4 linked regions of the Homo sapiens genome follow. The protein of the gene in region 2 interacts with the protein of the main gene of each other region in a pairwise test. Each region holds a gene or a part of one and is shown on either strand. Other genes may lie near its edges. The genes, in order: CRACR2A, ANKRD29, CABP2 and HLCS.

Region 1 (7,028 bases), on a different chromosome or scaffold from region 2:
TCTGTGAGGCAGGAACTTTTTGTTTTGGTCATTGGTGTGACCTTGATGGCTAGAAGAGTGCCTGACATGCAGTGGGTGCTCAGGAGACATTTGAGTGAATGCGTGCATGCATGCATGAGTGAATGAATGAATGAATGGTGCACAGAGAGAAAGAAAGAGGGAGCCCAACAGGAAGCTCCCAGGTGGAGCTGGAATGCTGAGGTCCCCTCTGTAGGCAGTGCCCCTAATAATAAGAGAGGCCATGCATAATCCTGATGGGCCACGGGTGTCTCAAGGGCATTCAGTCTATCCCCCACATCTGTGTGTACCTATCTGTACACAAAAACTATCCTCTACCATTAATCACATCCCTATGGAAGGAGATTCCACAGACTCCCCTGTCTTCCATACCACACCTTCCCCTGCACCCATCTGAATAGCAAATTGGCTGCCGTTGGATCTGTCAACTGCAAACTCCATGTTTGAATAGATTCCCCTTTACCATCCACAGGGAAAGGAACAAGCACCTTCGGGATGAACGGGACATATGTTTTCAGGTAATTGGCCAGTTCTCCCTTACCTGTGGGGGACCAAGGGCTGTGGTCCACTGGACAGCCAGATCCATGTCGAGACTGGCCCAGCAATGTCCTGACACTCGGGATCTATTTGGCAGGATGACGGCATGAAAACGTTTTGCAAATAATAAAAATTCAGGGTGGCCTACTGGGTAACAACGTGTTAATTTTCCACAGAGTAATGCAGTTTCCTCTTGGCACAACAAGACTGAAATATTTGGGAGGGTCGCACATTTCTTGGATGCAGAAATGATAGTTCTATCCATGAGATGGCGCAGTTGAAATGTCATTATCACTTCTAAACCAAAATGCTCACACCGTTCTTCTTCATTTAAATTTTTATCTCGATGAAAATTTTGCATTTTATACTGTCATAGACCACATTAGAAATGTGTATTTCACTGTTTTCATACTTGATTTTATGAACAATTTTTCTCTATCCTATAGGGACCCCTACTCTTCCATACCTGAGTACCATGTCTCTCTCTCTATATATATGTAGTGTGTGCATATATATATATATATATGAGTCGTAGAATCACAAAACTGCTAAGCACTTTGAGGTCATCTGGACTGCCCTCTCCACCTCTAGTATTAACGGATGAAATTCCCAGCTGTGAACCCCAAAGTGCATTCTGCAGTTTATATATATATATATAATATAAATATATATAATATATATTATATATTAATATAAATATATATAATATATATAATATAAATATATAATATATATTATATATATTTATATATAATATAAATATATATATAATATATATTATATAAATATATATATAAACTATATATATATAGTCTGTGTGCATATATATGTATGTATGTGTATATGTGTGTGTATATGTATGTACATATATATATATACACACACACACTTTCCTAAACGACATGAAATCCTATATTTATTTGAAGGTCTTCACTGTGGACCACATTGGCCAAAACCTAGGATTCCATGTTCTTACTCATCTTTCCCTTTAGACAGGAGCCACTGGGTGCTTTGAAGGGAAGAAAAATGAAGGCCAAATTGATTGATGTGACTTCCTAATTATCAGGGTTACCATCCTATGAATTTCATGTGGGTCCCTGGGCAAGTCATTTACTGCCTTGGACCATGACCTCCGCTGTCACGCGAGGAAAGTGAATTCCCATCCCCCCTCCATACAACAGGAATCTTTGAGAAAGATTCTTGGAAAGGGGATGATGTGGATTGCACCCTTAGCTGAACGGTGACCTAGATATGGTCAGCAGAAGGCAATTGGTTTGCCCTAAATTAGATCTGACCTGCTTTATAATTGCAAATCCCTGAGGGACTGCATTACGCCACAGTTTCTTTTCCATTGCTGACTGGCAGCAAACATCTCTGCCACCCACCTGTGTGTACTATTAGAGCAAGACTTGAGCCTACACATGTTTGTTTGATGATGATAATGGTTATAATTGTTTTAGAAGTAACACTGAATTTATTTTAAAACTTCCAACCAAATGTCACCCGAATCCCTTCACCTCCCTTCCCTTTACCTGCCAAACTCATTCTGCTTTGAAAGGGGTATGGAATTAAGAACTTCTGTGGGGAATCAAAGAAAGGGATAAATTCAATAAGAATTGAAGATTGATTTAGAATCAGCATAGCCATACCTTCAGGGGCTCTGGGAGCATTGCAGCCCCTCCTCTCATTAAGGATCACTGGGAATCATGGGATGGCTAATTAACGAGAGAGATTTCCTGCAGTCTAACTCCCCCGCCTCATCTCCTGGAAGACATCTGTCAGGGAGCATAGGCAAAGGGGGTTGTAAACCCCTGCTCCACCCAGGTCCTGTGTTACAGATGTTAGTAGTTTATCTACACCCAGCCTACTTCCACCAAAGAGCTGAACTACCTTATGCTAGCTCAGGACAGAACACTGAGTTAATTGATCCTCCTGGCTAGTTACTTTCTCATTACATCTGAGGCTTTAGAAATAAAAAGGGATTGGAGCCAGACAGAAGAGTGTGAATTAAAGATTCACAGAGTTTTTTATGCCTGTAAATATTTTTTCTTTTTTCTATCTGACCAGGCGTGGTGGCTCACTCCTGTAATCCCAATACTTTGGGAGAGTGAGACAGGAGGATCACTTAAGGCCAAGAATTCAAGACCAGCCTGGACAACATAGCAAGAGTCCATCTCCACAAAAAATGAGAAAATTAGCCAGGCATGGTAGGGCGCCTATAATCCTAGCTACCCAGGAGGCTGAGGCTAGAGGATTGCTTGAGTGCAGGAGTTTGAGGCTGCAGTGCGCTGTGATCATGCCATTGCACTCTGACCTGGAAGACAGAGCAAGACCCTGTTTCAAAAATATAGATATATTTTTTCAGAAGAGATAAGTGTTTAATGTATATTTTCTAGATGCATTAGAAATATGTATAGAAAATATGCATTAAACACTTATCTCTTCTTTTCCTTTTACAAATCATCAGTGCTCCTGTGAATAGCATGATGGGCCCCAGGCTGTAAACTGTGCACTTGTTCATTTGATTAGCTGACTGGAAAGGAGATGGAGGGATTCTGGTAGGGGATGATGGCAAAAGGGAAGAGTGGCTAGACGCTAACAGGGAGACCAGAACACTGCCTACTCCTTTCAGAGTTTTGTGTAGAGCCTAGTCTATGAGGTGGGAACCATGAGCCCTTTTCTGTTCAAACATCGGAGCAAATAGGCATGGATCTGAGGACATTTTGTGTTTCTACAGAAAAATAAGGCAGCCAAGGCAAACACAGCTGCTTCCAGGGCAAGTTGGAAAAAGAGATCTGGCTCTGTGATAGGCAAATATGTGGACAGCAGAGGGATTCTTAGGAGGTAAGTCATCTCCACTTGCTCATCCCTTCATTCCTCTCAGGCTCATTGGGAGCTGGCTCTGGGCCCATACTCAGTGCCTGCTGACCCCTTGAGAGGTGCGGAAACTGAGGTCAGCTGCACTCACTCCCCTCAAATCTTGGAACACATGCCCCTCCCTGTTCTGACATCTAAGCCAGAGGGGGAATGTGCAGAGCAAACCCCACAGGACAGACCATTGTCTTCTGAGGCTGCCCCACCCTACTGTGTGTTTGCAGAGAGGGACTGCAGAGCAGCAGAGGAGAGGGGTCAAGGGAGAGGGAGGGAGTGTGTAGCTGGGTAGCACTACACTGCTGTCTGCTGAGCAGAATGGATGCACTTGGTTTCGGGGTTTTTGTTGTTGTTGTTTTTTGAGACAGAGTCTTGCTTTGTTGCCCAGGCTGGAGTGCAGTGGTGCAATCTCGGCTCACTGCAACCTTTGCCTCCCAGGTTCAAGCGATTCTCCTGCCTCAGCCTCCCAAGTAGCTGGGATTACAGAGGTGCGCCACCACGCCCATCTAATTTTTGTATTTTTAGTAAAGATGGGATTTCTCCATGTTGGCCAGGCTGGTCTTGAACTCCTGCCCTCGTGATCTGCCCGCCTCGGCCTCCCAAAGTGCTAGGATTACAGGTGTGAGCCACCGTGCCCGGCCAATGCACTTGGTTTTTTAGGAACATGACTATATTGGCTATGAAGGTTAATTAAACTGTCAAATAGAATCTCCAATAGTTAACTCCTTTTACAGACAAGGCTAGGGCTTGTGCTTGACAGATCGTTTCCATGACCTATATTTAATTAACTCAAACATAACACATTTTGTTGCTCTTGGGCAGCACATGATTGAGCTTGAGTACCCAAGGGTTGGCTCATTGCTCATTGAGAGACAAACCAGTCCCCTGCCCACTCTTCATTTTGGCATGTGCTGTGTCCACATAGATGGCCACAGAGAGATAGAGGCATCCCGACTCTTCAGTATCAGACCCAGAGAGACCTTGAAGACTGCAAGCATGAAATGAAAAAGATATGCAAAGCGGAAGTGACTCTGGAGATGTAAATCAGCTCATCAGTAAAACCTTTGGGCCTGATCATCATGAATTCTTGTTCTAAATAGCTGAATAATGAGATACAATTTGGGAGCCAAATCTCTGCAATAGTGGTTGGCCTGTTGGTTCCTCAGAATGGAATGGATTGATTGATTGATTCAGCAGACGTTTACTGATTACCTACTGTGTACCAGACATTCTTTTGAGTTCTGTAAAGCCTCCAAAAATAAATTAGACATGAGGTCCTACCATTAATCTCCATTATTAAATGCTCACTTAATAAATATTTATTGAGTGTCTACTATGTGTGAGGTCCTGTGCTCTTTGCTGGATATACAGTAGTGAGCCAAATGGACCTACCTCTGTGTCATTGAATTTCTGGTTGAGTGGAAGAAGCAGACAATAATCAAGTAAGCAACAAATTGTGAGCCCTGAATTCTAATGCAGACTTTGACAAAAGTAGCTGCTGTCCCTACGGATGGCAGAGAGCACTTGGTGGTAAAACCAAAAATGAACTCAGTCATGCCGTGATGCAGGTATTACAGAATGGCAGTAGTGCTTGAGAATTTCCCAGACAGAAAGCTTTTTCCAAGAAATGCTTTGTTTTAATGCCTGTTTAAGTGACTATTTCTTTTCTGGTTGCAAAGCCTTTGAAAAAACATGCTCTGTGTGTGTGTATGCGTAGTTGCTCATGTGTACATACAAATAGTCACTTGTGTGTGTGTAAGCAGAGTAAAAGTAGATGGGAATACCAATTGTGTTCTTAAACAAATAAGCACTTAATAAGCTTGATGCAATATATAGGAAGTTTGCTGGAAAGAAGACATTTGGCTTTTTTAAAACTGTTTTTATAAGTCAAAGGAAAGGTGCTTTAATTGCTGCAAATCCTTTATTTTTCATATCAAGGAATCCAAACTAATTCACCCTTTCTTCAAGCAAGCACTATATCGTAATTTATCTTGCAGAATCGCAGTTAATTTCAGGATGGTGATACCTGCATTTTTTTTTCTTTTTCCTTTCTACTGTTGATCTTTAAGAGTAATACATATTTTAAATTAGGGAGCAAAAGAAAGTGTATTTCTCTGTTCTGCATATTCTGTGTCCTTCATTTAGTTCCTTTCTCCTTTGGCTCTATCACCCCACTGCTTCATCCCCATTCCATTTTCTTTTCTAGTCTGTGTGCATGCTTGCATGCGTGTGTGTGTGTGTGTGTGTTTCAATTCTGGACTTAAGGTCCTCCCTGTCAAACTTCCTTTAAGACAATTTCTGTGAGGCCTTTGCTCTCAAAACCTACTGAAAATACAGACCCTGCATTGACCCCCACATCCAGTTCCCCGATTCCCTGCACTGCCTACAGCTTCTCCTTGCCCTTAGTGCTCAAATGCTTCTAGAAGATATTTAGGCCTCTGAGCCACTTACTCCTGATTGTGACTTCTAGGGATACAGAAAGGGGAAGAGAAAGGGAGAGGAAGGAGAGGTGGATGGAGATGCTCTGCCTGGCTTTCTTCTGACCCAAAGCCTCTTGTCTAGGGGGAAGCTGCCTGTGAGCCAGCAGACCTGCTATGTCTGGAGGTGGGGGGCCCTCCCAAAGCAACAGCACCCCTCACACTGCTGAGGATGTTTTGCAAACATGTCTGTTTTTATGCATTGACTTATTTGGGAATAGAGCAGATGGGCCACGTTTTACAGCAAGGTCTGAAGAGTTGGAGTGTCCTACCTAAGGACACACAGTGAGTAAGGGCTGGCGCTGGGGGCAGAGCCAAGGTCATCTGCTAATGTTAATCGGGGGCGCTTTATTAAAATCTGAGTCTGAGACACGTTTCTTCACAACCTTTCCTTCTCCTTCACAGCAGTCTCACAATTTGTAAAGGATGTATTTATTTGTGTCATTATTGCTTTAGTCCCCCACTAAATCAAGTATTCTGTGAGGACAGGGATTATGTCCATCTGTAAATGGCATCTTTACTTAATACTTGGTCATCATCATCATCATCTTTGTCATCATCTGCCACAGCAGTGGCAGCAGGCACTTAGTGGAAGCGTGTTGAATGAATGAGCTGCAGAATGCTGGCTGGTTTGTTTTTCCCTCTCCCGGACTGCTCTTGTCCAAAGGTGTGATGCTCCTTGGGTATCTGTTCGTCACAAAAGCTGTTATGCAGCCCGTATTGAAATATTTTGTGAAATCCTCCCAACTCTTCTCTCTTCCCCGCCCCAGTAGCCAGTCAGAGGAGGAGGAGGAGGTGTTTGGCATCCCAAGGAGAAGCTCCCTGGGCCTGAGTGGATATCCCCTAACAGAAGAGGAGCCAGGAACCGGGGAGCCAGGGCCTGGGGGTCCGTACCCCCGGCCGCTCCGCAGAATCATCTCCGTTGAAGAAGACCCCCTGCCCCAGCTCCTGGATGGTGGCTTTGAGCAACCCCTGAGCAAATGCTCAGAAGAGGAAGAGGTCTCTGACCAGGGGGTACAGGGACAAATCCCGGAGGCCCCACCCTTGAAACTCACCCCCACATCCCCCCGAGGGCAGCCTGTTGGAAAAGAAGCCCTGTGTAAGGTAAGGGCACAGCCTACCTTG
Region 2 (5,514 bases):
AGCCGAGATGGCACCACTGCACTCCAGCCTGGGCAACAGAGTGAGACTCCGTCTTAAAAAAAAAAAAAAGAAGTAAACATGGCAGATTAGCATCCAAGATGGAGTTGCATTAGCCTCCACAGTCCCTGTGCAGTTGTTTGAATTGCAAAGTGAACCTGCCACTTTTTTCATAGATCACTATTTTTACTTGAAAGAACAAGGTATCTACCACTATGACCTTAACAGCTTCCCAAAACTTAAAGGCTTTTCTGATGGATCAGTTTTTTTGTTTGTTTGTTTGTGAGATGGAGTCTCTCTCACTATCACTCAGGCTGGAGTGCAGTGGCGTGATCTCAGCTCACTGCAACCTCCGCCTCCCAGGTTCAAGGGATTCTCCTGCCTCAGCCTCCTGAGTAGCTGGGATTACAGGCATGTGCCACCACGCCCAGCTAATTTTTGTATTTTTAGTGGAGACAGGTTTTTGCCATATTGGCCAGGCTGGTCTTAAACTTGTGACCTCAGGTGATCCACTTGCCTTGGCCTCCCAAAGTGCTGGGATTACAGGCGTGAGCCACCACGCCCAGCCAGAATGTGAGTTTTTGATATTGCACAATGAAATGTGCCAACATTCTACAAACTCAGTGAACTGATATTTTCCAAATGAGCAGTGCATGTTACAAACCATGCATAGGTAAAAGATCCAACTATAAATAGATAAACCTGTGGGTTTTAAAGTTCATTGGTATGGTTTCAAATCCCACATTGCATTTAACCTTTAAGAAACTACCATTTGTTGAGTATTGATGTGGCATCAGAGAATAATATCCACAGCAATCCAAAAAGACTGTTAAAATACTCCTTCCTTTTCCAGCTACATATCTGTGTGAAGCTTAATTTTCTTTATATCCTTCTACCAAAACAGCATATCACAATAGACAGGATACAGATGGAGATATGAGAATCCAATTGTATTCTGTTAAGCTACACATGAAAGAAATATGTAAAGCTGTTGAGCAGTGCTACTCTTCTGAGAATTTTTACTTGTTTTTGAAAATTTAATTTTTCATAACTATATTAACTTGGATTTATTATTTTTAGTGAATTAATAAATATATTTTTAAAATTTTCTCAGTTTTAATTTCTTTTTTTTTTCTTTTTGAAAATATTTTCTTTCTAAATAATAGAGATGAGGTTTCACTATGTTGCCCAGGCTGGTCTCCAACTCCTGAGCTCAAGTGGTCCTCTCACCTCAGCCTCTCAAAGTGCTAGCATTACAGGTGTGAGCCACTGCGCATAGCCCTCAGCTTTCATTTTTAATAAGTTAAAAACAAAATTTGTTAGACTCTTCAGTAATTTTTGAGAGTATAAAGGGTCCTGAAACCAACAGGTTTGAGAGCCACTTCCACATCACACCTGTTGTCAATGGTAGGGACTGGTTCACTAGATGCCTAATGGATGTATCTCAGCAGCAATGTGAAAAGAAAGGCCTTCGAGTGATACTGAGTAAGGTGGAAGGTGTTAGCCACCAATGCTCTTCTTTCCCGGGTGTCTCTTATGCTCTGGAGGTTTCCTATCTCTGCCTTCTCATCAAAAGATATCTGGCCCGGGCGCGGTGGCTCACACCTGTAATCCCAGCACCTTGGGAGGCGGAGGCGGGCGGATCACTTGAGGTCAGGAGTTCAAGACCAGCCTGGCTAAATGGCGAAACCCCATCTCTACTAAAAATACAAAATTCAGCCGAGCATGGTGGCACATGCCTGTAGTCCCAGCCACTCGGGAGGCTGAGGCAGGAGAATTGCTTGAACCCAGGAGGCAGAGATTGCAGTGAGCCGAGGTCACACCACTGCACTCCAGCCTGGGTGACAAAGTGAGACTCCATCTCAAAAAACAAAAAAAAAGACACCTGTGCTGAGTCCTGACTCAGTCCCAAGTCCTTAGTGGGCAGACTACCTCATGTCATACATTAATAAATATAAGGTAGGCTGGGCACGGTGGCTGATGCCTGTAATCCCAACACTTTGGAAGCTGAGGCAGAAGGATCACTTAAACCGAGGAGTTCAAGACCAGCTGGGGCAACATGGCAAACCCCATCTCTGGAAATTAGCCGAGCATAGTGGTGCACATCTGTGGTCCCAGCTACTCGGGAGGCTGAGGTGGGAGGATCATTTGAGCTGGGGAGGTCAACGCTGCAGTGAGCCATGATTGCAACACTGCACTCCAGCCTGGGTGACAGAGCAAGACCCTGTCTCAAAAAATAATAATAATAAAATACATATAAGGTATAACATTTAATTTGACCGGTACTTATTGAGCACATTTTAGACATGCTGGGCATTGTGCTGGAGATAAGGATACAATGATTAATTAGATCTGGACCCTTCCCCCTAAGAGATTACAGTCTAGTAAGGGATCTGGCTGGAAAATGTCTCTAAGAATGAGATAAGGATATAACAAGTAATATTTATACATTTAAAGAAGATTTGTAATACCTTTATATAAAAGAGTGAGTCCAGTGTGGATTTTTTTCATTAGTGAAGGAGAAAGAGTGGGTCAAATGCCCCTCTTTGGAGTCCCTAAAACCACACCAGCTATGGGGATTCACTAATGCCCATCTTCTCTTCTTTCAGGCCAATGAACTTCCGGCAGAACTAACCAAAAATGAACGTATATTGCGTCTCCTGAGAAGTAAAGAAGGTCCCAGAAAGAGCTAACTTAGCTCCATATTTGACAGAAAGATAGAAAGCTTAACCACATTGTCCAAAAAGAAATTGCATTTCAAGCAGTGTTGGAAATTCTTTTATGAAAAAAAAAGATGCCCAGAATGCCCATCCTGTGGGTCCCTGACAAAGAAGAGCTACGCTCTGTGCACGAAGTCAAGAACCAAACAGCTCAGGGACCCTCTTGCCCCTTCACCATGGACTTCTCATGGTGTCCTGTAACTCATCTCCCGGGGGGCCTGGCATGTTCACAGATTCCACAGAAACTCATTTTCAACAATGCTAACTTGGACCTGTCAGTTAAACTCTAAGGTGGACAGGGTTCTCAGTACTAAGCAAGGAGACAGAATGCTTTGTTCCTTTAAAAGACTGAAAAGCTGACCTTCAATGGATTGAGGCACTTTTGCTTTTGTGTTAAATGTAGATGTGCTAAAATATATAGATCTATCATATTTTACCTACATATGTATGTCATTCCAGTATAAAACATTCTCCTCTACCCAAGAACCATAGCCATGATTGTTATAAATCAATGAAGTGTAAACATACATTATTAAAAAACCACTTCTGACATTCCATTATGTGCTATTCAAAGATGGACTATTGAACTATAGAAAAGACAGACTGTGCATTTGTTCGTTGATCCTCATCTTATTCCTGACATGTAAAAATCAATTTTACGTAGAGTCAACATTGTAGGTAGGTTAAAATACCAGTGGCAAATTTGGAAATTCAGAAACTTATAAACCACGAGAAATATATAGGCTTGTCTCTTTGGTCTTTTATTTTGGCTCTATTGTTGGGAATCTATTTCCTATTCTATAAGTAAGTATACCTAACATGCTGTGGAATCTTGAGTTTCCAACACCGTGCTGCTTGATAGAATGACTTTGAGGTCCTTGGATAAAATGTGATATATGCAAGTACAGTATGTTGCTATTACTATTGCAGGAATATAAATAATAAAAGACTGTTATTAGCACTTAGTAAGTCTTCATCTATGCATGTTTTTGAGTTGACTGATTCCAAGAATGAAATATGAGGTTTATTGAATTATTCCTTTGAAAGGGATCAAAACTTATATTCAATGCACTTTATAATTAATGGTGTCTAAATGCCTCAGTCAGTGCCTAACTGCACATACAAAAATAAAACCTTCTTTCTGTAATCTACCAAAATAAACGCAATGGTATTTCTGCTATTTAAACACATCTTTAGCTTATTTCTTCATGTTCTGCTCTGGTTTTCAGTCAGTGTCTATGTAAAGACACTTTTAGAGGAAAATGTTGTAATCCCAAAAGAATTTTTGTTTAACCAACTTTCAGAGTTACTAAAAGGATTATCTTTAATTCAGTAAATAATAGAATATAATCTTCAAAATTAGAAGATATTCTCTTAAAATTTATAACAATTAATGCAACAAAAATCAGCATATTTTGATAAATGTCTCAAGCAAATGAGCAACTCACAGGCCCCACAGGTGCCTACAGCCTGACCAGCTATACAAAAAGCCTGCAACCTGATTCTAGGATAAAATATTAGAAAGCTCTCTGTTGCTAAAACATCCAGATATAAACATTTTGGTGGCTAAAATCAATGCCATTTCCTCATTGACATTCTTTTATTCAGCAAATTTGTACAAATATACATTTTCTCCTGTGCGAATTTCAAAAAGCTATATTCATTTTGAAGAGGAAAATAATATGGCATTAAATGCTTTGTATTTTCCCCTTAGTTAGCCCTTATGGCAAAAATAGTTGCTAATCACTGATACAAAGCAAAACGTTATGGGTACTGATAACAAAGTTCCAAAAGCCAAAATGGGATGAATCACAAACTTACTGTTTTTCACTAAAACATGTAATTGGCCTATTACATCAATAGTTTTAAGTGGGTAATGTTCTTGAACAATATTAGAGCCATAAAATTGAAGCCAGTAGCTTGAACAATATGGAGGCCTTCTTACTGTAGGGAAGAGGTGTCTAGCTTAGAAGGATCACATTTGATCTAGATGAGATTACCCATAGCAGGGAAAATGAATCATCACCTACCAAAGACTGTACGGAAAGGTGTGTTATTTTCAAAATTGCATTTTAGTTTGCACACATGTAAATGATTATTCTATGTTAATCTAATTGACAATTCAGTTAGCTCCGCATCCTAAGACTTAAAACTAGCAATTCCTATGCAAATCATCTGCTTAACTGAACTACAAACGTTTTTCATTAATTCATTCTTTGATGACATATTCCATGTTATATAATAATTCAAAATAAAGTTAATATACTACCCCATTTGCCTTTGCTGCTTTTTTCTTTTTGTTTTTAATCAAGAGTTATTGCTATGTGATTTTTAGTAGCATGGAATTTTAGGGTGAATAATTCAACTCTGTAAATATATTGATATTTGGGACCCTAAATAGATATTTAAACTTTATTTTAGTAATGGACCTATGATTTCATTATCTCTGCTGTAGAGAATGAAATGATTCCAAAAAGTTTTCATTCAGAAAAGAATTCTTGGGACAGTTATTTAAGATGCTGAAAATAGAAAATTTTCTGATTTGTATTATTTATGATGCTCCTGGCCCTTTAGTCCTTTGCAATAACTTTCTCTTGTGAAGTAGCTGGTGGTTTTGCAGAACTGTTGGTGTAGGAGACAATAATTTGCAGCAGTAACATCAGGAATATGGAGATTTACAGGAACATCCTGGCTTCCATCTGCTCCATCCACCCTCTGCCGCCACAAGAAAGCTACGTCTCTTCATAAATCCCACACTGAGACACCTACTCAGAGGAAAAGAGTGCCCCCAAATACC
Region 3 (7,668 bases), on a different chromosome or scaffold from region 2:
CTGAGGCGGGTGGATCACCTGAGGTCAGGAGTTCGAGACCAGCCTGACTAACATGGTGAAACCCCGTCTCCACTAAAAATACAAAAATTAGCTGGGCATGGTGGCAGGTGCCTGTAATCCCAGCTACTCAGGAGGCTGAGGCAGGAGAATTGCTTGAACCCAGGAGGCAGATGTTGCAGTGAGCCGAGATAGCGCCATTGTCACTCCTGGGTGACAGAAAAAGACCCCATCTAAACAAAAAACAAAAAACAAAAAACAAACAAACAAAAAAACCAAAAAACTTCTTGGAACTTTCCTTAATTTTCCTGAACTCTTCGGTTGGGTTCAAGTCCTGGCTCCAAGGAACTTGCTGTGTGACCTTAGACAAGTCACTTAGCCATTCAGTTGCCTCATCTGCAGAATGAGGATCACAGTCCTTGCTGTGCCCACCTCCTAGAAGCTGGTGAGATTCTCCAGAGGCAGAGAGCTTGCCTTGAGAATGACCAAGGTCATGGGCTCTGGGGACAGCCTGTGCAGTCACCTGTGTACCTGGACTGCTTGGCTTCATGGGCCCAGCGGGGGCATCTGGAGGACTGGGGATGGGGATGGGTCCGAGGCACATACTGATTTGTTGTGAGATCTCGATGAGCTCCATCTCGGTGGGCATGTAGCCCAGGGTCCGCATGCAGGCACCCAGCTCCCGGCAGCCAATGTAGCCGTCCCGGTCTCGGTCAAACTCCTGGAAGGCGACCTGCAGCTCTGCCAGGCAGGGTGGGGTCAGTCCTTCCCCCACAACCCCCTGATCCTGGCCTGGACCCGCCTACCCTTCTCCCTTGGTCCAATCATCCCTCCTTCTGAACATCAGATTCTCTTTGCTGCCTCGGGGCCTTTGCACGTGCTGTTCCTGTTATTTGTTCTTTCAGCAAATATTTGAGGAGCATCTACTATGTGCCAAGCTCTGCTCTAGGCACTGGGGATACAGCAGTGAAATTTTTCAAAAAGGAAGAAAGAAAGAAAGTGGGGGAAACAAATTCTGACCTCTTGGAGATTTCCTCACTCTTCCCCTTCCTCTTTGGTCCTATGTCACCTACTAAAGGAAGCCATCCCTCTACATGTGGCCTCCCCCGGCCCATTTGTCCCTTTCCTGGAGAGCACATGCACCATTTGTACTTGTAGCTGACTAATTGACGTTGGTCTCCAGAGGGCACGGGCCATATCTGTCTAGCTGGCCATGTTTCCCAGTGCTCAGCCAGGGCCAGGCACACAGTGGGCACCCAGGAAGTGTCAGCTGAATGAACAAATATAAAAGGGGCCCTGTCACCTGCCTGGTGAGTGAGACCAAGGAATGACAGCTGGGTGGGGGTCTGTCATCCCCTCCCTGCTCAGTCTTGTCCCCATTTCCCTAAACTGGTCCCCTGCAGCCTTCTTGCTCCCACTTCCTCCTGGAAACACTGAGGCCCCCACCCGATGCCCCCCCAACCCTGTGTCCCCACCCCATGCCCCCCATGCCACCTCCCCTTCAGGGAACCAGTTCCTTCTCCAACCCTTTACCTTCAATCTCCTCGGGCCGCAGCTCCCGGTCCTGAAGGGCACAGAGGGGTTAGGAATTCCCTGCTCCTACTGATGACTGTGCCCTTCCTTCTTGCTTCCCGGGGCTCCCCACCCAGCCCCACAATCCAACACGCACACGCAGGGCCTGTGTCTGTCTGATTGCTCGGCCCTGGTTCCCACCCCATCCTACTCACTGGCCTGGGTAACCGGGTGCCCCCTTCCCTGCTTCTGGCCTAGGTCACTCCTTGGGCCGTCCTCACCTACTCCATCACCCTCTTCTGGGGCAGGGGGCTCCCTTTGCTGGTGGTGGATCTGGGGTTTGGGCAGAACCTCAGACTTGGTCCCGCCAGCCTCAATGTCACTGTTGATCTCTCTTCCATTTCTAGAGTCATTGCTCTCTCCCCTCTCTGCACCCCCACCCCAGATCTGTGTACCTTTGCTCTGATGTCCCCACTCAATCCTCTTCCCCCTAGCTCCAGGAGAGGCAAAGCGAGGGGCAAGGGTAGGTGGGCTGGAGTGCGAGGGGCAAGGGCAGGTGAGCTGGTGGGAGAGGGGCAAGGGCAGGCAGGCTGGCGGGCGGGTGGCCGTACATACGAGTTGGGTGGCGGCAATGCTGGGCCGCAGGAAGATGCAGGCAGGCCCCACCAGGCTGTTGAGCACCGAGTAGCCCTGGACGCCTGGCGCGGGGTCCCCCTGCTCCTTGGGGCTGGAGCTGGGGCTGGGGCAGGAGCCCCTTGGTGGGGAGCCGAGCCACTGCAAGGGGTCCTGCAGCAGAGCCGGCCGTGAGCTGGGGCAGTGGCCGCTGAGCTCTGGGCCTGATAGCCCTCCCCACTCCTCTCACCAGCTGCTCCTGTCTTTGGAGCCCGGCATGGGACAGTAGGGAAGGGGCTGGGGGGTAGAGAGAGGACCCTCACCCGTGAACTCTTTAGGCAGAAAGGGTCAATCCTCTAACTGTTCTGTTGGGCAAACTGAGGACCAGAAAAGGCAAGAGACTTGGCCAAGGCCACTGAGAAAGCCAGCGGCAGAGAGGGACCTTGTGCCCAGCTCTGTCTCCTAGATGGAGGCTGGCTAGCAGAGAGCGGGGACCTGCAGCCGGGATGGGGCAGCTGGACGGGCAGCTGGGGGACCTGGAGCCTGGCAGGGGAGACCCAGAGGTCGGTGGGAGCCAAGATCAGGATGGCCAGAGGCTGTGGCTTCCAGGAAAAAAATCTCCACCTGGGGCAGTGGGCAGCCCCCAACCCCGCCCGGCCCTCGGAGGGCTCTGCCCATCCCATCTGACCCTCAGGGTCCATTCCAGCCTCCTGGCCTGGGTTTCTCCCCTGACCCCTCCTACCTTAGGGCCCCGGCGCCAGGGCCGCTTGGCACAGTTCCCCATGGGCCCTGAACCATGCCAGGCCTGGAACCCCGGGGGTGGCCCGGGTGGGCCTCGGCGGATGCTGCTGCCTGAGGACTCCTGCCAGCCCCCAGCTGCTCCCGATGAGAGCCTGGGAGTACTGCCGGGGATTTTCCTGGGGTTTTGTGGGGAAGATCGGGGGCGGGTGGGCAGGCGGGGGACTTGGGCCTGGGGCTTGGGTCCTAATCCGGGATTATCTTTGAGCGTCTCCGCTGCTGAGGGGAGCCACTTGGGCCCAAGGCCCCCTGGAGAGCACAGCCTCCCCAGACTGCCTCCTGAGGGTCTTCCAGACGCCCCTTCTCCAGCACCCTCCCCCAACCCCTGCCTCTAATCTCTCCCAATCAGGGGAGATTTAATGTCTTCAGAAGCAGGGCCTGGGTCCCAGGAGGAGGAAGGCAGGCGTGCAGTGTGCCAGGGTGGGCTGGGCCCTCCGAATGGCACAGATTCCGGTTGGTATGGACACGCGGGCCTTCCCACACAGCCTCCCAGAAAGAGGCAGCCACTTGGCTCAGCCCAGGAAGCCCCTGCCTCTCCCTGCCAGGACCCCAGCTGGGCCCTGGGCTCCTCACCTCGGGGTAGCCCCAATTGCTTGCACTTGGCTCCCCCTGCCTGGACTGGTGCCCCGCCCTTGGATGAGGAGCAGAAGGGAACCGCCTATGTGCTGTGGGCAGTGACAGGGCTCGGTGAGGGTGGAGATTGGGAAGGGAAGCCACCCCGGCCCTGCCGACCTCAGAGAGTCTCCCATTGGACTCTGCCTCCTGGTCCCCTCCCTGGACTAAGTCCTGGGTCTGTCCTCCGGGGCCCCCAGTTGGGGTGTGGGGTCCCTGCTCTTTGTTCCTGGTCCCCTCATACCCCTGCCCGCATTACCTGCCCGTAGGCTGCCTGCACCTGGGCCTCGAGCTCCCGGAGAAGCTCTCGTCGCCGGGTGGCTGCTGGGCTGCCAGGGGCCTGGCTGGTTCCTGGAGTGCCCTCAGAGGGGCTGGGGTCCCCCGTTGGGAGGCTGCCCTCTGCTGGGCCCTGGGGCTGGGCCATGGAGATGAGGGCTTGGTACCTCCTCCTGGCTGAGGGACGCTGCTCCGTCCGGCCTCCCCAGTCCTGCGGGAGAGTGGTCTTGTGGGCAGCCACAGGTGTGGCCTGGGTCCCTGCTACTCTTCTTTCTGTCCCTTCCTCCATAAACTGGGAGAGCCCCGTGTCCCCAGAGTCTTGTATCCTCCCTAGCTCCCCGTGGCCCCTCGTGTGGCCCTGTCAGCCTGGTGAAGCCCCTCATGCTGGTCACAGACTGTGCCCGGGGCTCCACCTGATCATCCTTGTGGCCCCAGTGGTCGGCCCTCCTGCCTGCCTTTGGCCTCCTCCCCCGCAGTGTTCTGCCTGCATCTCTCTGGCTCACGCGCACCTGATGCCCCACACACCTCCTTGCTCAGTTTCCATCTCACCGCCTGCCCCTCTGTGCCCCCTCTGCCTCTGTGTCTGTTTTGCCTGCAGCCCCGTCTCCATCCCCTCTGACTCGCCGCCATCTCTGTCAGTCTGGATCCAGTGGTGTCTCTGCCGTCTCTGACCCACTCAGCCCATCTCTCTGCTGGCTCCTTCCCTCTGTTGCTGCAAGGTCCTTTCTTGCATTGGTCTTTCTGTCTGTCCTTCCTTGCTCTTCCTATTCTCCCCACCATCCCGCTCCCAGGAGAGCTCCAGAATTCTGGAAAGGCCTTCCCCATCTCCCCAGCCCAGAGCCCTAGGGTCCGTCTGTGCTGCCCACCTCCCTGCCTCCCTCCCTCCTCCCCAGGGTCCCTCTGTGCTGCCCCCTCCTTCCCTCCCTCCTCCCCAGGGTCCCTCTGTGCTAGCCCCCTCCTTCCCTCCCTCCTCCCCAGGGTCCCTCTGTGCTAGCCCCCTCTCCTCCCCAGGGTCCCTCTGCATTGCCCACCTCCCTGCGTTCTGCCAGGACCTCCACCTGGTCCTGCTGACCTTCAACCTCTTGCTTCTCAAGGAAAAGGGGTGGAGGTGGGCCGGGCAGCCCCTGCTGGCCTCTCAGGCTTCCTTGCCATGACCCCAGCCCACTCCCCACCCAGCTGCCCGCTCTTCAACTCCCAGAATGAGGTCATCATCCTGCCCCGGCTCCATTCCAGGCCCCTCATGATTTATTCATCTGTCCCCCACACTGGCCTTTGTCTAAGGGAACCAGATCCCACTAGGTGCTGCCACCTGAGCTGGTGGCTCTGGCCTCTCTCAGCCACATGCGGCCATCTATTCATGTATTCCCTCAGCAAACAGCTGAGGCTGGCTGGGCCAGCTTCTGGGGCTATGTGACAGACCCCATCTGTCCAGAGAAGCCCACTCTCAGGCATGTCTAACCAGGAAAAGAGCCACCAGACAGTCTCCAAGTACTTGGGGTCCTTGGCCCAGGCATCAGGGAGGCTTCATGGAGGAGGTGAGGGGATAAGGCAATGCTGCAGGCATTGCCTATCAATGTTTAACCTGTGCCTGGCCCTGGGAGAGAGCCAGGGTCCCTGGCACGGATCAGCCTTGAACTTGGAGTGCCCCAGGAGCTGGAACCTGGCAGGTGGGTTGGATGGAGGCCCTTGGGAGGGAGGAAGGGGCTAGTGGCCTCTGGAGAGGGTATAGGTGGCAGGAGGTCAGAGAAAATTTTTGAGAGGCTGAATCTGCAGCAAACGTTTGTCCGGCCCCTGCTCTGTACCTTCCTGGGTGCTGGAACTAGTCCCTACATCCTGGAACCTTTCACCTGCTGGGAGATGCCTATTCAGCAAACCAGAATGACAGTGGCCAGGGAAGTGCAGGAAGGGCCAAGGTTCTCAGGAGGGAGGACTTGGCCGGGCGTGGTGGCTCACGCCTGTAATCCCAACACCATGGGAGGCCAAGGCAGGCGCATCATTTGAGGTCAGGAATTTGAGATCATCCTGGCCAACATGGCAAAACCCCATCTCTACTAAAAATACAAAAATTAGCTGGCGTGGTGGCGCATGCCTGTAATACCAGCTACTCGGGAGGCTGGGGTATGAGAATCACTTGAACCTGGGAGGTGGAGGTTGCAGTGAGCCGAGATCGCCCCACTGCACTCCAGCCTGGGTGACAGACTGAGACTCTGTCTTGAAAGAAAGAAAGAAAAAAAAAAAAAAGAGGGAGGGCCTTGCTTGATGGGGTTGAGGAACTGACATGCTAGCCAAGAGCAGAGGATGATGGGAATGGCTGAGCAAAGGGAGGGGGTGGCCTCACAGACAGAGGAAAGCCTCCACATCTGAGGACAGGCCGGGGTTGAGAAGTGAGTGGAAAGGCTGGTTGTGATCATTCCCATTGCTTCAGCCTTCAGTGTCCTTCAGTCCCACCTCTGCACATGGAGAGCAGGAGCGGCCTGGTTTCCCAGGCGGTAACGTCTCTGAAAACATTCATCGGAGACAGAAATTCTCCTCTGCAAGACCACAGAAAGGGCCGGCAGGCCTAGGTTCCCCCATGCACACACCGTGTCACCCTGGGAAAGGTATGTCACCTCTTTGAGCCTCAGTTTCGTCATCTGAAAAGTGGAGGTTGACCTAGCATCTGCCTCCCAGTGCCATTGTGGAAATTAGATGACAGGACCTGGCAGGTTCCTGGCACATAGGAAGGTGCAGAACGTGGTGGGCACCACACGTGATGAATGGTCTAAAGAACCATCTTTGAAAGTGGAAAATGGTGAGAAATGTATGTCCCAAAGTATAATCCAAAACAGTGGGGTCTGTAACCACTCAGAGTATAGGGGGTAAAAAAGTTTTCAGTCAGGGAGCAAAGGCCTTGTGTCTAAGTGGAGGAGAAAGCCTGGCTTGGAGATCCCCCTGCTTGTGTTCAATCAGCAGCATCCTGGAGCTCTCATCTTGGTGCCCTCAACTTGCCCAGCCTGACTTAGCCAAGCTGGGGTCCTGGCTCCAGTGTCCAGGATGGGTGGATCAGGGGTTTGACTAATGGGTAGACAGAGGGAAGGATGGGTAGAAGGATGGTTGGTTGGGTAAAATGGGTGGTTGGATGGATGGGTGGATAATTTGATGAACTGGTGTTTAAATGGACAGATGGATGGATAGATGAATGGATGGACCGGAGGATGGATAGTTGGGTTAGTAGATGAGAAGTTGGATGGATGGACAGGTGAATGGCTGGCTGGCTGGAAGGATGGGTAGGTGATTTGATGGGCTGGTGGTGCAATGATTGGTAAATGGATGGATGGATGATTGCATAGATAGTTGGTTGGGTAGAGGGTTGGATAGATGGATGGGTGAATGGAAGATGGATGTATAGACAGGTGGCCGACGATCATATGGGTAAATGGGTAGTTGGATGAATAGGTGGACAAATGGATAGATGAATGTCTTGATGGACTGGCTATTGAATATTTGATTGATGGATTGATGGATGATTGGGTAGATGAGGGTTTAGATGGATAGAGAGATAGATGGAAGTGGATAGATGGCTGGGAGGATGGACTGCTGGTGAAGGTCGTGTGTGTGTGTGTGTGTGTGTGTATGTGTGTTTTGAGACAGGATCTCACTCTGTCACCCAGGCTGGAGTGCAGTGGTACAATCGTGGCTCATGGCTTACTACAGCCTTGACCTCCTGGGCTCAAGCAATCTTTCTCTCAGACTTCTGAGTAGCTGGCACTATAGGCATGTGGCACCATGCCCAGCCATTTTATTTATTTATTGCAGAGATGACATCTTGTTATGCTTCCCAGGCTAGTCTTGAATTCCTGGCCTCAAGCAATCCTCCTGCCT
Region 4 (7,268 bases), on a different chromosome or scaffold from region 2:
TCACGCCATTCTCCTGCCTCAGCCTCCTCAGTAGCTGGGATTACAGGCGCCCGCCACCACGCCTGGCTAACTTTTTTGTATTTTTTAATAGAGACGGGGTTTCACTGTGTTAGCCAGGATGGTCTCGATCTCCTGACCTCGTGATCTGCCCATCTTGGCCTCCCAAAGTGCTGGGATTATAGGCGTGAGCCACTGTGCCCGGCGAAGATTTTCTACATAGTTCCTTGGTTCTTAGAAAGTATCCCAGGCTGGGCACGGTGGCTCACGCTTGTAATCCCGGTACTTTGGGAGGCCGAGGCGGGTAGATTGCTTGAATCCAGGAGTTCGAGACAAGCCTGGGCAACATGGCAAAATCCTGTCTCTACAAAAAAATATAAAAATTAGCCAGGTGTGGTGGCATGTGCCTGTAATCCCACAACTTTGGGAGGCTAAGGTGGGCAGATGGCTTGAGCTCAGGAGTTGGAAACCAGCCTGGGCAACAGGGTAAAACCTTGTCTCTACAAAAAATACAAAAATTAGCCAGGTGTGGTGGCTCATGCCTGTAATCCCAACACTTTGGGAAACTGAGGAGGGAGGATTGCTTGAGCCCACGAGGTCGAGGCTGCAGTGAGTCGGGATTGCACCACTGCCCTCCAGCCTGGGTGACATAGCAAGACCCTGTCTCAAAAACAAACAAAACAAGCTATCCTTCTCAGCTCTGGCCATTTGACTGATGAGAATTCTGAATGCTCTCCAAGTTCAAACAGGTACTGAGTTAATGTCAGTATGATAGGCTTTCCCTGGGGAAGTTCTGCCATGTATTTAATGGGGGATAGGACAGTAAACACTCTACTCTCTCTTGTCCCCAAACTATTATTCCCAGGGCATGCCTTCCTAAGGGCAAGAAACTAGAGACTTTTTGAGTCTGTGGAGACTTTTCCTATAGAAAGCCGGTCATGTTGATGGGTTTCAGAGGTGGTCTTCAGTGGCTAGCTGGGTCATTCTTGTTCCTTTCTGCAGTGTTCTTATAAATGACAAAGTCTTGCTTCTAAATCCCTAGTCTGACCGGGCGCGGTGGCTCACGCCTGTAATCCCAGCACGTTGGGAGGCTGAGGTGGGACGATCACCTGAGGTTAGGAGTTTGAGACCAGCCTGGCCAACATGGTGAAACCCCATCTCTACTAAAAATACACAAATTAGCCAGGTGTGGTGGCATGTGCTTGTAATCCCAGCTACTCGGGAGGCTGAGGCAGGAGAATCACTTGAACTTGGGAGGCGGACGTTGCAGTGAGCTGAGATCGCGCTGCACTCCAACCTGGGCAAGTGAGACTTCATCTAAAAAAAAAAAAAAAAATCCCTAGTCTGTGGTCTTATTTTCCACATCATTTTGGAAATGTCTTATTAGAGTCTAGAGTAGCCCAGACCCAGGGAATGACAGAGGAAGATGTTAGCAGTGCTTCTCTAACTTTAATGTGTTTGTGAGTCTCCTGGGATTTTGTCAAAATGCAGACGCTGATTTGGGGTTGGGTGGGGCCTAGGATTCCGCTTTTCTTGCGAGCTTCCAAGTGATGCTGCTGCTGCTGCTCTAAGGACCACACTTTGAGCAGTGAGGGACTACAGGATGAGGATCAGGTGCATACACATTAATATCCCTTGGTGTATTATTTTTGCATCCTTCCCCTATTCCTTTGTTATATAGGGGTGATGAAACTCAACTCTATCCTTGACCTTTGCAAAATGAAATCATTTTAGGGCGGGATCATAAACAGAGCTTGTTATGTGACTGTTTCACTTCTCACTGTGCCCTTCATATCTTCCTCCCTCTATTCCTTCCCCAGGCATGAATGGTATCAGTACTCTTCAATGCAAGGGTCAGCTCATGTTGAACCATGGTGGTCCCCATGCTTTTAACCTAGAATTGGTATACAGGATTGACCCCAAAATGTAATTTTCCCATGATGTATTCTGAGACCATATCTCGAAACACCTAAGGGTAAACCTAGAAAATTCCTATTGGCCAGGTGGAGTTAGAGTACCTGTGGGAAGGTGTGGTCTCAAAACCCTTAGGGAATTTGGAAAAACTGGAGATGTTGGTCACCTTCAGATAGAGGAGATGACCTCTCCATACCTAGCAGGGGTGGGGAGTGGTCCTTATAGCCATAATTCAGCAAACTTCAAGAAGGCTATCTGAAAGGTTGTTCAGTGAAACATTTAGGATTTATCACTGTTGAGCACTTTTCATCTTCAAATTCCTGACTTGTAGTCCTGTGTTGTCCTGGAGTGGCCAAGTCTCTCCTCAGCGGGAACTGCACGTCCTTCTCCAGTGACACAATTTTAAGGTCTTGTTACCATGCAGGAACCCACTTTCCGGCTGCCACTGTCCTGTAGAGAAGTGTAGGATATGGCTTTAGTCCTGTTTATCACTTTGTTTTTCTTCTATTTCTGGTCCACAGAGATGCTTGCTTTTAAGCCCAGTTATTTCTTTTTGGATTTTCTCTCTTTTAAAAATCTATCGCTATATGCAAGGGGGAAAATATACTATGTTATCTAACCAAAAGTCTGAAGTTCTGGGAGTGGGTGTTCTATGCAGCTATATTAAAGCAGATGAACAAATGGCCAAGGTACTTTAAAAATCTATCTTTATGGCTAGGCGCCATGGCTCAAACTTGTAATCCCAGCACTTTGGGAGATCCAGGCAGGAGTTTGACTGCTCGAGACCAGGAGTTTGAGACCAGCCTGGGCGACACAGCGAGACCCTGTCTCTATGAAAAATAATTTCTAAAAAATTAGCTGGGCATGGTGGCCAGGAAGATCACTTCAGCTCAGAGTTCGAAGCTGCAGAGAGCTGTGATTATGCCACGGCACTCCAGCCTGGGCGACAGAACGAAACCTTGTCTCTTAAAAAAAATCTATCCTAGCTGGGCGCGGTGGTTCACGCCTGTAATCCCAGCACTTTGGGAGGCAGAGGCGGGTGGATCACCTGAGGTCAGGAGTTCGAGACCACCCTGGCCAACGTGGTGAAACCCTGTCTCTACTAAAAATACAAAAGTTAGCCAGGCATGGTGACGGGCACCTGTAATCCCAGCTACTCGGGAGGCTGAGGCAGGAGAATCGCTTGAACCCAGGAGGCAGAGCTTGCAGTGAGCCGAGATTGCACCACTGCACTCCAGCCTGGGTGACAGAGAGAGACTGTCTCAAAAACAAACAAACAAAAACTATCCTTAGATTAAGACATGGACGTGGTGTACATGATTGCTTTTGCTGCATCTTGCCACCTATTTTCAGCGAGGGCCAGAATAGGAAGCCACTGGATGGAATTCTTTGCTGTGCTTCGCAGCTGTTCAGAACACGTTCTTTACATAATGCCTTTTAAAGAAATGAGGTTCTATGGGAGAAGCCTCTGTGTCAGGACTAATTATGCTTCCCTTGGAGACAAGAACACCAAATCATGGTGATGTTTTCCTTTTCCCACTGGTGTTAGGATGCTTACAGTCAAACTGTTGACCCACATGTAGCAAGAACACCATAGGGAGCCTTCCTGGCACAGCCTTTTTAGAGGCAGCCTTCTTGGTGCTTATCTGTCTTCAATTTCTGTTTCCTGTCCTTATTTAAAAAAACATTATTGCATCCCGTGAATGTATGTGATTGACCTTAAAATCTTTTGCATGAAGGCTTAGTATAATTTAATAAAAACGGCCTTATCTTATTTTCCCAAGTCGACTGGGTAGCGGCTGTGGAGCGCTCTGGGACTCCCGGTGTGCTGCTGGTTAGTAAAGGTTGGCCTTGGCAGCTATGAACATAGGCAGAGCCCCCTCCTCAATCCGCCTCCCACCCCTCCAAGGAAGGGAGGCCGGACTTGGCTTAAACAGGTCGGGCAGCCACTGGAGCCTCCCCTCCCCCGCATCCACAACATACCCATCCCACTCCTCAGCCCTGGCGCGGCCCCGCACCCCGGCCTCCACTCCCTCGAGCCCCCTCTCCGGGTGCAGCCCCGGCGTCCCCTGACCCCGGTGCACACCCCCCGCCCCAGCGCTGCCCCTCGCCGCCGCCACCAGCCCTGGGCGCGGCCTCCGGAGCTCCCCATCACACAGCCGGGCGCGGCCTCACCCCCCCCCGCCCCTCCCGCCGCAGCCTCCAGTTGCCCGCGTCACCTTCCGGGTCCCCGCCTCCCCCGCCGTCCCCACCCCCGCGCCGCCTGGCCCGGGGGGGCGGCGCGGCCCTTCCGGCCGGGGCGGGGCCGGGCCTGGGGCGCTGGGGCGGGCGGGCAAGGCGGGCTCGCCCTGCCGGCGGCGCGGCCATGCTCATCACGCTGTGCTACCTGTACCTGTGGGCGCGCTGGGGTCGCCGGCCGGCTGAGCTCGTGCGCGCCACGGTGCGGCGGCTGCGTGCCTCGCGCTGTTCCTTCACCTTCTGCGGCGCGGCCGCGCAGCCCCCGGGCGCCCGCGTGTGCCTGAGCCGTGGCGGCCGCGTCTTCTGCGTCAGCGACAGCCAGGTGGGCGGGTCGGGCGGGCGGGCGACCCGGGCCCCGCGAGCCGGAAGTGCCCCCGTCCCTGCGCCTCGTCCCCGCCGGGAGCCCGGGAGTTCGGGAGCCCCGGAGTGGCGCCCTCAGTGCGGCCTGTGCGGCCCGGGAGGGGCTGTTGCCCCGGGGCCCAGAGAGAGGCCGGAGGTGCGGGACTCGGACCACGGACCCGGTCGCCTCTTCCCGGCCAGCCGGGCGGTGCTGGACGCGTGACTCTAGGCGCGCACCTGTGAGGACGTGAGCTGTGGATTGACAGCCGGACGCCAGCAGTGCCCACCTGGGGTCGCCCCCAACCTCCTCTCCCACACTTCGAGCCGGCGTTTGGGTGACCGTGAACCAGGAGAGACAGCTGTGGCGGGCCGGGAGCGGTGGCTTATGCCTGTAATCCCTGCACTCTGGGAGGCCTAGGAGGAAGGACAGCTTTGAGCCCAGGAGATGGAGACCAGCCTGGGCAACATAGCTAGACCCCTCTCTACAAAAAACAAAACAAAAAAAACACTTAGGTCGGCGTGGTGGCACGCGCCTGTAGTCCCAGCTACTCTGGAGGGTGAGGCGGGAGGGTCACTTGATCCCGGGAGGTTCACTTGAGCCCCGGAGTTTGAAGCTACAGTGAGCTATGATTGAGCCATTGCACTCCAGTCTGGGTGACAAAGCAAGACCCTGTCTTAAGAAAAAAAAAAAAAAATCCCAAACAAAAAACTCCCACCTGTGTCATCAGCTTTTTGTCAGATGTCCCCAAATTTACAAAAACTGCCCTTTTCCCTCTCCATCTTCTGTCAGTTGGTTGCATCATTCACCAACTTGGGCACCCGACTGATGGTCTTTGCGTCTTTTAAATTTCAGTTGACAGTCAGCCTTTGTTTTTTTTGACCCAGTGCTTAGGATGGTGGTTACGTGTTCAGCCCACTCTGTCACCTACCTTGTGACTTGGGCCAGTCAATTAATCTCTGTAAAAAGTCTGCTGCCTTGCTGTAAAGGGAACAATAGATCTTTCCATTCAGCTGTTTTTGGAAATGGGCTTAGCTTCACAGTGCAGTACTGCACAAAATTTCATGGACATCGGTAGCATTGTTCTCATTAATATTTAAACGTGTTTTGCTTTTAATCTGTTTCTTGTCCCTTTCCTCTGTTTTCTGGAATATTGCCTCACTTTTAGCACTAAAATGACGTTTTCTGCATATGTCACACCGTAAAGCCCCTGTGGGGAATTGAATCTTATCTCAGGTTTGAACATTGCCTGGAGGCTGTGCTTAGATATGGGTTGAAATTGTGCCACTAGCAAATAAAAAATACTCTTTCTTGTTAGTACCATATATGTATTATGTCACACTGAATATGAATGACTGTTTTCTCAGGTCCCCCAAGGTACTAGTTATGCAAATAACTAGTACCACCTCCACATAACTGACACTACCCAGACAAAAGGGGAAGAAGTTCATGCATTACATACAATGTATGGCTTAGAGCGTTGGGAATTAACCTGATTGAGAAAGATAACTCAATAAAATGGCAAAAAATTGAGGGGTGAGCTTTTTGTAGTAGTTTCCAAATTGGATCAATTACATTTAGGATTTAAGTCAGAATAGAAATTTTGGACATATAAAAACATGGAGATGGGAATGTCTGATTTTCTTGGACAGTTTTACTTTTGAACATTTTCATGACTCCGCTGGCCTTCTGTTAACTACACTAACCATAACTAGTGATTTTCAGCCCTTGCCTACCTGTGCAGGCCGGAGTAGGAGTGGCCTGGTGCTTTCATGGATTCTGTAACTCTGCTCTGTCACTCTGCACAGTAAGCTTTGCCTACAGATTTGGTTAGATATTGCTGCGTCATTTCCTAGTTTTCCAGACTAGATGGGATGGCCATGCTCTGCATCCCTGTAGCCTTTAAATCACAGTTCCTATTCTAGTTCGTATCTTTTTCTTATTAGGAAATGAGACTGTTTAGCATAGCAGCTTGACCTGAAATAGTAAATTTAATAGTTGTTGGGTTTAAGCTGTGATGTTGAAGGTCTACAGGTGGAAAGCTTGACCATTTATTTGTGGTTGGCTACTGTTATTTTGAGATTTAAAATATGATCAGGTTGATGATTTGGTGGATATCTCAGTCTGCTTGGGTCTACTTTTGAGGGATACCTCAGTCTACTTGGGCTGAAATAAGGACACACCTGAATCTCATGCCCATATGTTGAGATGGATCTCATTCTGTCACCCAGGCTGGAGTGCAGTGGCGCGATCTCCGCTCACTGCAATCTCCACCTCCCAGGTTCAAGTGATTCTCCTCCTTTGGCGTCCTGAGTAGCTGGGATTACAGGCATGAGCCACCACGCCTGGCTAATTTTTGTATTTTTAGTAGAGACAGGGTTTCACCAAAGTGTTGGCCAGGCTGGTCTCAAACTCCTGACCTCAGGTGATCCGCCCACCTTGGCCTCCCAAAGTGCTGGGATTACAGGTGTGAGCCACCAAGCCTGGCGTGTTCTCATATGTTATACACTTAAAATCAAATGCATGAATACTGAATATGTGTGTTTATAATTGAATGCCCTACAATCAATTGATAAGTTTAACCAAAGACAGTTTATACAAATTGGCAGTATCAAGCTTTTTGTCTGTTTAATGTACACATTCTATGCTTGGATAAAGTGGACATACTTTTTTTTTGAGATGGAGTTTTGCTCTTGTTGCCCAGGCTAGAGTGCAATGGCACGATCTCGGCTCCCCGCAACTTCTGCCTCCCGGGTTCAAATGATTCTCCTGCCTTAGCCTC

Evidence for each region.
Region 1: the proteins of ANKRD29 (region 2) and CRACR2A interact in binary tests that used the Homo sapiens proteins (3 or more experiments, as listed by UniProt).
Region 3: the proteins of ANKRD29 (region 2) and CABP2 interact in binary tests that used the Homo sapiens proteins (3 or more experiments, as listed by UniProt).
Region 4: the proteins of ANKRD29 (region 2) and HLCS interact in binary tests that used the Homo sapiens proteins (3 or more experiments, as listed by UniProt).

The regions. Positions count from the first base shown.
Region 1 is NC_000012.12:3,638,103-3,645,130, reverse strand, and holds part of CRACR2A (EF-hand calcium-binding domain-containing protein 4B), read left to right. Parts: intron 1-490; coding exon 491-536; intron 537-3,292; coding exon 3,293-3,399; intron 3,400-4,351; coding exon of another isoform or gene 4,352-4,469; exon of another isoform or gene 4,470-4,762; intron 4,763-6,673; coding exon of another isoform or gene 6,674-6,676; coding exon 6,677-7,007; intron 7,008-7,028.
Region 2 is NC_000018.10:23,598,402-23,603,915, reverse strand, and holds the end of ANKRD29 (ankyrin repeat domain-containing protein 29), read left to right. Parts: intron 1-2,606; coding exon 2,607-2,690; 3' UTR 2,691-4,990; downstream 4,991-5,514.
Region 3 is NC_000011.10:67,520,422-67,528,089, forward strand, and holds the start of CABP2 (calcium-binding protein 2), read right to left. Parts: upstream 3,026-7,668; 5' UTR 2,920-3,025; coding exon of another isoform or gene 2,906-2,919; coding exon 2,864-2,905; intron 2,296-2,863; coding exon 2,125-2,295; coding exon of another isoform or gene 2,121-2,124; intron 1,562-2,120; coding exon 1,531-1,561; intron 739-1,530; coding exon 604-738; intron 1-603.
Region 4 is NC_000021.9:36,963,647-36,970,914, reverse strand, and holds the start of HLCS (biotin--protein ligase), read left to right. Parts: upstream 1-4,245; 5' UTR 4,246-4,276; coding exon 4,277-4,471; intron 4,472-4,522; exon of another isoform or gene 4,523-7,268. UniProt on the Homo sapiens protein: Biotin--protein ligase catalyzing the biotinylation of the 4 biotin-dependent carboxylases acetyl-CoA-carboxylase, pyruvate carboxylase, propionyl-CoA carboxylase, and methylcrotonyl-CoA carboxylase.